3 separate regions of the Homo sapiens genome follow, and regions 1 and 3 are each reported to be linked to region 2. Evidence: microRNA targets listed by miRTarBase, many of them from high-throughput screens and not tested one by one. Region 2 holds a microRNA gene; each other region holds the end of a gene's coding sequence.
What was found. Region 2 holds the annotated microRNA hsa-miR-5190 (CCAGUGACUGAGCUGGAGCCA, at 2,119-2,139, opposite strand). A microRNA usually pairs through its seed, bases 2 to 8, with sites in the 3' UTR of a target mRNA and lowers its output. Matches are read on the target gene's strand: a 7mer-m8 pairs with bases 2 to 8, a 7mer-A1 pairs with bases 2 to 7 and ends in A, and an 8mer does both.

Region 1 (3,351 bases), not on the chromosome of region 2:
TGTCTCTGTTAATGGAATTGGTAGAAGGCATGTTTTGGAGGGACCGGGTGCTATTAGGCTCCTGAGTCACTGCATTTTGGCCCTGTAAGGACAGCCCAGGGTCTACTACAGGGCCTCCTTTGAATTTGACAGTGCTTGGTGAGATCTAGCAATAAATACCTTGGGTAAGTCTGGAGTGATGGTTTCTTACACAGTGTACCTTCTCAATGACTGGCTGGGGTTGTACCAAAAATGAATGAACAGATAGTGCCACTAGGACCTCTGATCCCTTGCTCATGGTAGACTCATTTGAACATTCCTTTAGCCACGACTCTGCACCCCCAAATGAAAACATATTGAATTTACATTCACTGATCATTTTACACTGGACCACCGCCTCCATCGACTATGCCAGTCCCAGCAGCTAGATTATATTCCATGTGCTGGTCCTGTCTTCCTCCACTCCTCCCCGCTGCCTCTTGCATCCACAGTTCATGCTTCTACCAGACCATCCCTGTCAGGGGACAGGAATTTACAGGCAGTTTGCAAAGAGCATCTTCTTCAGTCAGAGACTCTCATTGCAGTTTCCTTTCAGTCACCATATTCCTGAACAGGCTTGGAAACTTGACTTAACCTTGCTGGGCCCTCTTATTTCTTCAGCTCTTCAAGGAGTATGGTAAAAGCAAGATCCAACGATGTGCTGCAGAGGGAGGCTCTCTGCCTATTGAAAAGTACCATGTCCACCAGGGGCCTGCTGTAAATATTTCTGCTACTTCCTCTGGGGGAGATGATGGCTTAATGACAACTTCAATGGATTCTAAAGAGGAAGGCATCCTCTCTGCTCTCTGTTCATGATATGGGGTGGGGCATAGGCCATGCTAAGGTCAGGTCAGGCTGGAGCTGCTGAAACGTACCAAGGTGACTCACTTCCCTGATAACACTGCTGAGAAAAATGCAGGCTTCTTCTTGCCCTTCCTGTATCTGGGACACACCTCTTAGGATGGAAGATATTTGGCACCTGGGAAGAAATGTTAAGTCAGGTCAGGAAGAACTGGCTCTGAGTCTGGGCTTTTCCTTTTGAGTTCAGAAAGAGTTGGGTAAAAACTAAATACATAAATAACCTGTGCTTTGGCTCTGAGTAGCCTCTAAGCCTGAGTTTATAGTCAATGTGACCTTGGGCAAGTTTCTCATGTTCTCTGGGCCTAATTCCTCCTCTTTGAAATTTCCATAATAATATCTGCATCCTGGGGTTGCTTGGAGAAATTTCAATGAGTTCTTAAGTGTAGGAGATGATTAATAACGTCCATTTCTGTCATTTTCCTGCGGTATAAACCATGTCAGGAAGCCGGTTTATTTTGCTTGTTTGTATTTTCTCTTTTACTGTAATGAATGTTTTATTTTTATTAAAATCCAATGGGTTTAATTCTGTAAAAGGCTGACTGCATGAAGAATGCATGAAAAAACTGAGGATAAGAAGGGTTTATGTGACCATCTCCAACAAGCTGGCTGCTCAGGGGCAGAAGTAAAACTGAACTCCAGCCACTCCTCTGGGGGCAGGTACAGTGGTTCTCTTAGGTGCTACCTTCAACTCTGCCCTTTTCTCTTTTTAACTTCAACACTTGGGAACTTACTTTTTCTTTCACATTCAGGACTCCAAATTTAGAGTTGATTTTGAAACATACACATATTTATGTCTCAGTGCATATGGAATATATGTCTATAATGCCAATGTGTCTTTCAGGAAGTAAGCAGACTTTCAGACTAAGCAAAAGACTACTACCCTTTTAGTCAGCCTTTCACAGAACCGACAGGATGAAGACACGCATAGATTTCGCAGTTTCTCTTTTCTATTCTAATTGGCTTTCTGGAGGCCAGCTGCCACCTGGGGCAAAGTATCCAGGTCCAAGATCATTCTGAAGGCCAAGGGTTTAATCCTCTTTATTATAACTGCTGAGATCAGAAGCATGTGCAAATATTCTTTGAGGTCAAGATGGATCCCAAGAGACCTCTAGCCAGTCACTAACTGCTTCTCCATCCTGAATATTGCTTTGTTTACTTGAAGTTTACACATGGGAATGAGTAAAACTGTGACCTCCAAAAATGACAAGGAATCGCCGAGGAGATAAATCTTACAATCCAAGTAAAAATAAATCTGATGATCACAATGAGACATTAAAAATTAAAAAGAGCAATGCAGAAAGGAGAGGGGAGAGAGAGGATTGTAATAGCCATGAAAAACATGTTTTTTTAAGTAACAAAAGAATTTAGATTTTGCAATGATTGCAACACAGACAGCTATTTTGAGTTGGGGGCAAGTTAATTATATTCAAAAAAACATAGCGTCTCCAGAAAAAATCTTTTTTTTTTTTTCAGTGAAATAGTTTAGTTCCTTCATATAGAGACATATTACACAATGTTAACAACCATGAAAAACAATACAAAATGCCCTCCATTTAACAAGTAGAAAAATATAACTAGTATATATGGCAATTGTGAATCTAATACTGTACAGAAGTACTTTATGGATTTTACAAATAAATTATACCTTAAATGCTTTTTTAAAATTCTTTTTCCCCTCAGATGTACACCAGAACTTACAGTAGGAAAGTTTCTGAGCTTAGCTTATTGCAAATCAGTGCCAGTCAAATGTTCTGCCAACAAGCTCGAAGAACTTCTTATTTGGCTCATGAAAATATTCGTGCAGTTTATTGAGTAGTTTGGGATCGACTTGGGGGTGCGCCCGGCCTTTGGACTCATGTAAGCAGCGGTCCCGGCCGCTGTCCCGCAGGCAGTAAAAGCCCTTGGTTTTGTTAAAGTAGAAGTTCGAAGCATTGATCTGCGGCGACAGCTTTAGGAACCTCTCGACCTTTTGGATCTCAGGGAAGGGGTCCCTGATGAGGCGGTCGCCGTCCACAATGTGGATGTGGCGCAGCGGGAAAAAGCGCAGCCAGTTCTGCATGTGCACGTGGTAGAGGCTGCGGTTGAGGGCCTTGTAGTCCACATTGAGCCTGCCATCGCGCACCAGGAACTCCTCGATGGACGGGTAGGGCTTGTGCTTCTGCATGTGGTTGTAGAACACTTGGGTGTAGTCAGATAGCACGCGCTCCGACGGGTCTCGCAGGATGAGCAGCAGCCGGATGGACGGGTTCATGCTGTAGACTCGCTCAGGCACTTTGGGCGACGTGAAATACGCGGGGGTCTTCTCCACTGTGAGCTGGTGTGGCCAGGAGAAGGGCATCTGGCTGAGGTACCAGCCCAAGCCGTGGCTGTAATGCTCCTCCCAGTCGAAGAAGTGGACCTCGTTCTCCGCGGCCGCCACGTCGGGGTGCAGGCTGAGCATCTCCAGCAGTGCGCGCGTGCCGCCCTTGCGCA
Region 2 (3,351 bases):
GAAGCCAGCCCACTGCTTTCACAGAATGAAGCTCCAGCTCATCCACCCAGGCAAGCAGTGACCCCATGAGGCAGGAGAATAGGATCTGGAGGAAGGGAACCTAAGGCCGATTCACACCGACTTCCTAGAACTAAATCAAAAGGAAAACCCCAACTTTCCATGCCCAAGTAACACAAGGACCAGAGGCTACTCCCTTGCAACCCTGCCCCCTCCCACTTTTTCTGTGTGGCAGATGAAAAATTGAAAGTACCTCTGACTGGACCCCTCCCACAACCAATCAGGCTGGTCAGGGGCCAAGTCTTGCATAGGAGTATAACTTTGTAACTTCACTTTAGCCTCTGATTGGTCACTTTCTGCAACCAATCAGACATTTGCATAGGGTGTAACTTTGTAACTTTGCTTCAGCCTCTGATTGGCCCCTTCCTGCAACCAATCAGACTGATCAAAGGCCACTAGTTAATTTACATAGGGTGTACACCAAGTAACCAATGGGAAACCGCTAGAGAGTCTTTAAAGCGGAGAAAATTCTGTAACCGGGCTCAGGAGCCGCTTGCTAGGGCATGCTACCACCCTGTGGAGTGTACTTTCGTTTTCAATAAATCTCTGCTTTTGTTGCTTTATTCTTTCCTTGCTTTGTTTGTGTGTTTTGTCTGATTATTTGTTCAAGATGCCAAGGACCAGGACACCCTCAACCAGTAACACACACTCTCCTTCTTCAATGACGTTTGTGTTCCTAGAATCCATTTTCCTCAGTCAGGTACGTGTCCCCATCCCCACGTCTTCCTCGCTCTTCTTGACCTTTGTTTACTATGTCCTCCTACTTCCCCCTGGTTCCCCCAGACTCTCAAAACCCATGCAGTCCCCAAGGCTATCGGTCCTCCTCAGGCCCTGGCCACGAAGACCCCTGCCTACCGATCTTCTGTACTAGCCCAGCACGCGTGGACACATTCATCTGCACGACAGACATCATGGGGCACCTTCTGTGAGCAGGCGCTGGGGAGACAAGGCCAGCCCGCCTCAGTTCCCACGGTACTCAAGAGACAGCAAGCCAGGCCACCCCAGCATGGTGAGGTGGGCACTGTGTTCACCAACAATAAAGGCGGACAAAGGTTGGTGCAGTGGGGGCTGCAGAAGGGCCCCGGCCATGCAGACGGCAGCATGGCAGGCTGTTCCAGGCACACAGAGGGCGGCATGGCAGGCAGTTCCAGGCAGAGCTGCCTACTACACCCCAGTGGGCTGATTCATTTGGTGTTGGAAGAAAAGGGGAGAACAATTTTATTTTTATTTTGCTCTTCAGCAAAATCTATAATTTTGTGTTTATCTTAGGAAGTTTATAATAGTATATGTATATAATATTAAAATAATTAAATACACATATAATAGGGATTATCCCCAAAATATTTTACCAAAGAGAGACACATGTTCCAAAAACTCAGGAGGTATGAACTGTCTGCCTTAAATACCCTCATCACTAATTGTCCTTTTTTGGTCTCTCTCAACAGCACTACCTTCTCATCAGATATGAAGAATTTTCTTTTTCTTTACTCAGCACCAAATCTCTTAGAAAATACAAAACAGACACATGGCTTCGTCAGATGACATGGGTCCACTCTAATGGACTGCTCTAAAACTATCAGTTAAGGACGGGTGCATGGCTCATGCCTGTAATCCCAGCACTTTGGGAGGCTGAGGCAGGAGGACTGCTTGTGCCCGGAGTTCCAGCTCAGCCTGGGCAAAACGGTGAGACCCCATCTCTACAAAAAACACAAAAATTAGCCAGGCATGGTGGCGTGTGCCTGTAGTTCCAGCTACTCAGGAGGCTGAGACAGAAGGATCCCTTGAGCCCAGAAGTTCAAAGATGCAGTGAATTGTGATAGCGCCACTGCACTCAAGCCTAGGCAAGAGAGTGAGGCCCTGTCTCTTAAAAAAAACAAAATAAAAGCTATGAATTTAGGAAAATAATGTTCATTAACTACTAGTTTCAAACATGTCCCTATTCTTATAATATACTGTATCCTTGCAAAGCACCTCTCCTTTGTGTTCCTCTTCAAAAGGAAGCTGGAGAAACTGCAGTGAAATGACAATGACCATGGCGTGACGACGTGGGGGCAGTGGCCCTGGCTCCAGCTCAGTCACTGGCTGTGGAACATTAACCATGTGACAGGGCTGGAGCCAGGGTATGACCTTGAGCGGAAACTTAGGGTATGCTTACCTTGAGTTTATGCACCTCTAACGATGAGACTAGGCTACGATTCATATACTTGCTGCTGATGTAAATATCCTGCACGTGCTCCTTAAAGCGCAAGCACTGCCTGAGAAAATGTAGACCTGGAAGGGTTTTCTTCTTTTTATTTAAGCAATATCTTTCTATAGACAAAGCCATATGTATCTCTTCCCTATTGCTGCTATAACAAGCTATACAAACTCAGTGGCTTAAAACACCGAATTTGACCGGGTGCGGTGGCTCACAGCTGTAATCCCAGCACTTTGGGAGGCTGAGGTGGGCAGATTACCTGAGGCCAGGAGTTTGAGACCAGCCTGGCCAACATGGTGAAACCCCATCTCTACAAAAAATACAAAAATGAGCCGGGCGTGGTTGCGGGCACCTATAATTCCAGCTACTTGGGAGACTGAGGCAAGAGAATGGCTTGAATCCAGGAGGTGGAGGTTGCAGTGAGCTGAGATCACACACTGCACTCCAGCCTGGGCGACAGAGTAAGACTCCATCTCAGGAAAACAAAAACAAAAAGAAAAAAAAAACACCAAATGTTATTTTTTAATTTTTCTTTCTTTTTCAGACTAAGTCTCAGTCTGTTACCAGGCTGGAGTGCAGTGGCACAATCATAGCTCACTGTAACCTCAAGCTCCTAGGCTCAAGTGATCCTCCTGCCTCAGCCTCCGGAGTAGCTGGCACCACAAGCATAACCTACCATGCCTGGCTTTTTTTTTTTTTTTTTTTTTTTTTTTTTTTTGGTGTAGAGATGGAGTCTCACTATGTTGCCCAAGCTGGTTTCGAACTCCTGGCCTCAAATGATTCTCCCACCTCGGCCTTCCAAAACCAAAGTGCTGAGATTACAGGCGTGAGCCACCACACCTGGCCTTAAAACACAAATTTGTTACTTTACAGTTCTACAGGTTGGGAATCCAAAACTAATTTCACTGGGTGAAAATCAAGGAGGTGGCAGAGCTGTGTTCCTTCCCAGAGCTCTAGGGGAGAATATTTGTTTGCCTTTTCCATCTTCTAGAAGCTGCCCACATTCCTTGGCTTGAGGCCCCTTCATCATCTGGAAAGCCAGCAATGGCAAGTCAAGTCCTTTTCACATGGCATGGCTCTGATCTCTCTTTGGTGGT
Region 3 (3,000 bases), not on the chromosome of region 2:
GGCCGGAGGGCCTGGCGGGTCTGGCTGAGCTCTCTGCCCTAAATCTGTGTCCCTTCTGTAGCTACCCGCTGATGACTACACCAGTCTGATGCCTGTTGGTGACCCACCTCGCACTGTGTTACAAGCCCCCAAGGAATGGGTGTGTTTGTAGGAGAGAAAGCCAGGAGGTAAGAGCCAGCTGATATCCTCGGCGAACATGTCTCTCCTGAGTCCAGAAGACCAGCACCCTCAACCTGGTAGCTTCTTTCTGGCTTGTCAAAGCTCTCAGAAGGTACCTAGAGGAGCCCAAGCCCCAGCTCCATCCTCCACTTATTCTGCCTGTTTCCCCCAAAGACAATGGCTGGACCCTGCATGCAGGGCTGGGGGTGGAATGGGGCTAACCAGCTCCTGATGGCCTGAGCCAGGCATCTTGACTGGCACCTGGAGAGCCCTTAAGTCTGTCCTGGCTGTGGCCCATGCCGACAGATATCGTGGGGCTGACAGGTCCACGGCAGGCTTGCTTTCTTTTATAAAATGGAAGCTCTGGTACCTTCAATGTATGACTCCTGGGAGAATCAAGGGTCCATCTGAGCCTCTGAGTAAAGATCCCAATGTTCTACCTCTCCCTGTCCCTCTTGTAGGGGATAGGGAGGCAGAGAGAGCCAGCCCCTACCCTCAGAGTATCTGGACCTCAGAGACCATGTTGTGCCAGGGGTGGTCCCACCTAAAGATGCTAGCCCCTCTCCAGGTGGGCATAAGGAGTAACAGATGGCAAAACCACAAACTATTTTGATGGACTGTGCTGCAGTATCACCAGAAGACATTAGGGGGCAGTAGGCCCCCACACAAAACCTTCAGGCTTGAATTTTAAAGGGGAGGACTTTCTGCCAACTTTTCTTGTATGCCTTGGGAAAGCCAGTTGCCCTGAACCCAGCAGACACCATGGAATGTCCTTTGCACGCATTAAATGGTACAGAACTGAAGCCTCGGAAGCAATTTGGAACTCGATCTTCTCTTCCTTAAATGAAAAGTTATTGACCAAATGGACTTTTTAAAAGACACAGGACCCTTAACTTTGCCCCAAAGTGAGGGGCTCCACACCAACCCCAGGCGGAGGAACACTCAGACAGATTAAGGATACTGTTGACCTGTCACTGTTTATTATTTCAGCACTAAAACTGAGGAGCCTCAACTGCTGGCTCTTCTTCCCTTTGTATTTGTGTAAGGAGCACTGCACTCCCATAAAAGGTTTTAAAATACAAAATGTACAAGAACACACAATTCCAAGTGCTGTAAACATAACTGAGAACCAGTTCCTTTACTAAACATCCATTTTATAAAACACAAGGTTTCAATTTGAGCCCATCTGAGCCTTAAAGATCCATTCTGAATACCAAAAACAGGGCTTCACAGCCAGGCCCAGAAGAGGTCTGGTGATAATGGCTGGCCCTGGGTGGGGATAGTTTACACCCGGGCAGCAGCACCACACATGAACCCAAAGACATGTTCTTTTTAAAGCTGTTTTCAGCCATGTTTCTCTGTGCATCTCCAGTAAGCAGAAGGCTACCCATTCCATTCCTCAACCCAAGAGCTAGCACAGTTAGAGTAGGAGGGGGTGCGTACTAGCACGTGCCCAGTTGCTCAGTGCTGCTAGTAGAAATTGATTTGCATAGTCCAATGGATGTGTGCTTTAACACCACTATGTTGCACAAAAATTTAAGTCTTTATCTACAAAGCCAAAAAATATTGACTCTTAACACCAAAGCTTTTACAAAGCTGATATAAAACTGCTTACATAGTATACAAAGCTCTATTTTAAAATTTAATGTTTATTTTAAATAGGAAAGCATTTCTAGTGCTACAGGCATCAAGGTATTTAGAAGGCATCAAAATTTGGTGCATAGCAACTCTGGATCATAGAGGCTTTTAATTCTTGAGGGCACAAAGGGTATTGCAAGGGGAACTCTTGCAATAACCTCATGTGAGGCAGCTACACCAGGGGCAAAAGGGTAGGGGCAAGTCTGGCCATTTCTCTGGAATGTCAACCGAGAGGCCAACTTCTTGCCCCTCCAAAGGAAGCTGTGGGCGTCCAACCACAGGCCCAGAAGCAAATCTCACTATCCACATTCTGTGACACAACTCACTTTTCAAGAAAATTTGAAAACACCCAGCTCCAAGAGGGGCCACAGTGATCTGCTGAAGAATAGACCTTTTTCTCTAACTAACTTTAGGGGAGAAATCTAAAATATATTTTGTTTTTTTTAAAGACCATACTTCCTCATCCTGAGTCAACAGCTCCTAACCTACTGACAACAGGTGGTGGGCAATAGGCCAGCTCCCTTTCCCAGACCTGAACTGGCCTTAGTAGAGAGAGTCCTGGCATCAAGGGCCTGCAGTCTCCTGGAATAACAGCATCAGGCCTTCAACCAGCACACTGTCTCACATATAGGCACTCAAAAAATCTGCTTCCTGAATCAATGGAAGTATATTATTTCATTTGAAAGCATACTGCAAACTTCAGAGGCTCTGTAATGGGCCCAGGAACAGGTAAAAAAAATCCCATTAGGGAGAGGGGTAAGGGCAGGTTTTTTTTTTTTTTAAAGTACCCAACTCGGGTACCTCCTTTGGTAGACAGCAGGCTGCAGTTTCTGCTGGGCCCTGCCTTGGACACCAGTCTCACCAGCAGCAGCACCAGGGTGTCTTTGGTGTGGAGGGTCAGGTTATCACTTCTGGATGTGCTCAGAGCCTTCTGGGGAAAAGGCTGGTTTTTAGATCATACAGACAGGACAGGGTAGGCCAGAATCATTTCAGGCTATAAATAGAATGGCAGATAAGCCTTCCATGCCAGTGTGACTCTTAAAACCTTCCCATCTGGAGTCCTGTATTTTCTCTGCCCATGCTGATGTACTGCTCATTTGTGCTTTAGCTCTGCACACAGCCTGGCCTCTAGCTAGAGTTAGAACTGCAAAGCTGCCTAAACCACTGAGACTGGCTTCAAAGGTCACAGAACAGCCAAAGGCA

Region 1: the mRNA of HS3ST1 is a reported target of hsa-miR-5190. Seed matches in the 3' UTR shown: 7mer-A1 at 2,349-2,355.
Region 3: miRTarBase lists ESRP2 as a target of hsa-miR-5190. Seed matches in the 3' UTR shown: 7mer-m8 at 1,130-1,136.

Annotation. Positions count from the first base shown.
Region 1 is chr4:11,396,471-11,399,821 of GRCh38, forward strand. HS3ST1 (heparan sulfate-glucosamine 3-sulfotransferase 1) reads right to left here. Exons shown (of 2, transcript NM_005114.4): 2 at 1-3,351. The coding sequence ends at 2,612. Among named protein-coding and RNA genes, the nearest start is that of MIR572, 29 kb to the left of the region's middle. RefSeq lists an enhancer at 315-1,514.
Region 2 is chr18:13,458,781-13,462,131 of GRCh38, reverse strand. It overlaps MIR5190 (microRNA 5190), which reads right to left and starts at 2,185; the gene lies at 2,106-2,185. All of the region lies in intron 4 of LDLRAD4 (low density lipoprotein receptor class A domain containing 4), which reads right to left. RefSeq lists an enhancer at 228-522.
Region 3 is chr16:68,227,377-68,230,376 of GRCh38, reverse strand. ESRP2 (epithelial splicing regulatory protein 2) reads left to right here. Exons shown (of 15, transcript NM_024939.3): 15 at 62-1,344. The coding sequence ends at 151. It overlaps NFATC3 (nuclear factor of activated T cells 3), which reads right to left. Exons shown (of 10, transcript NM_173165.3): 10 at 1,118-3,000. Among named protein-coding and RNA genes, the nearest start is that of MIR6773, 4.6 kb to the left of the region's middle. RefSeq lists an enhancer at 2,891-2,940.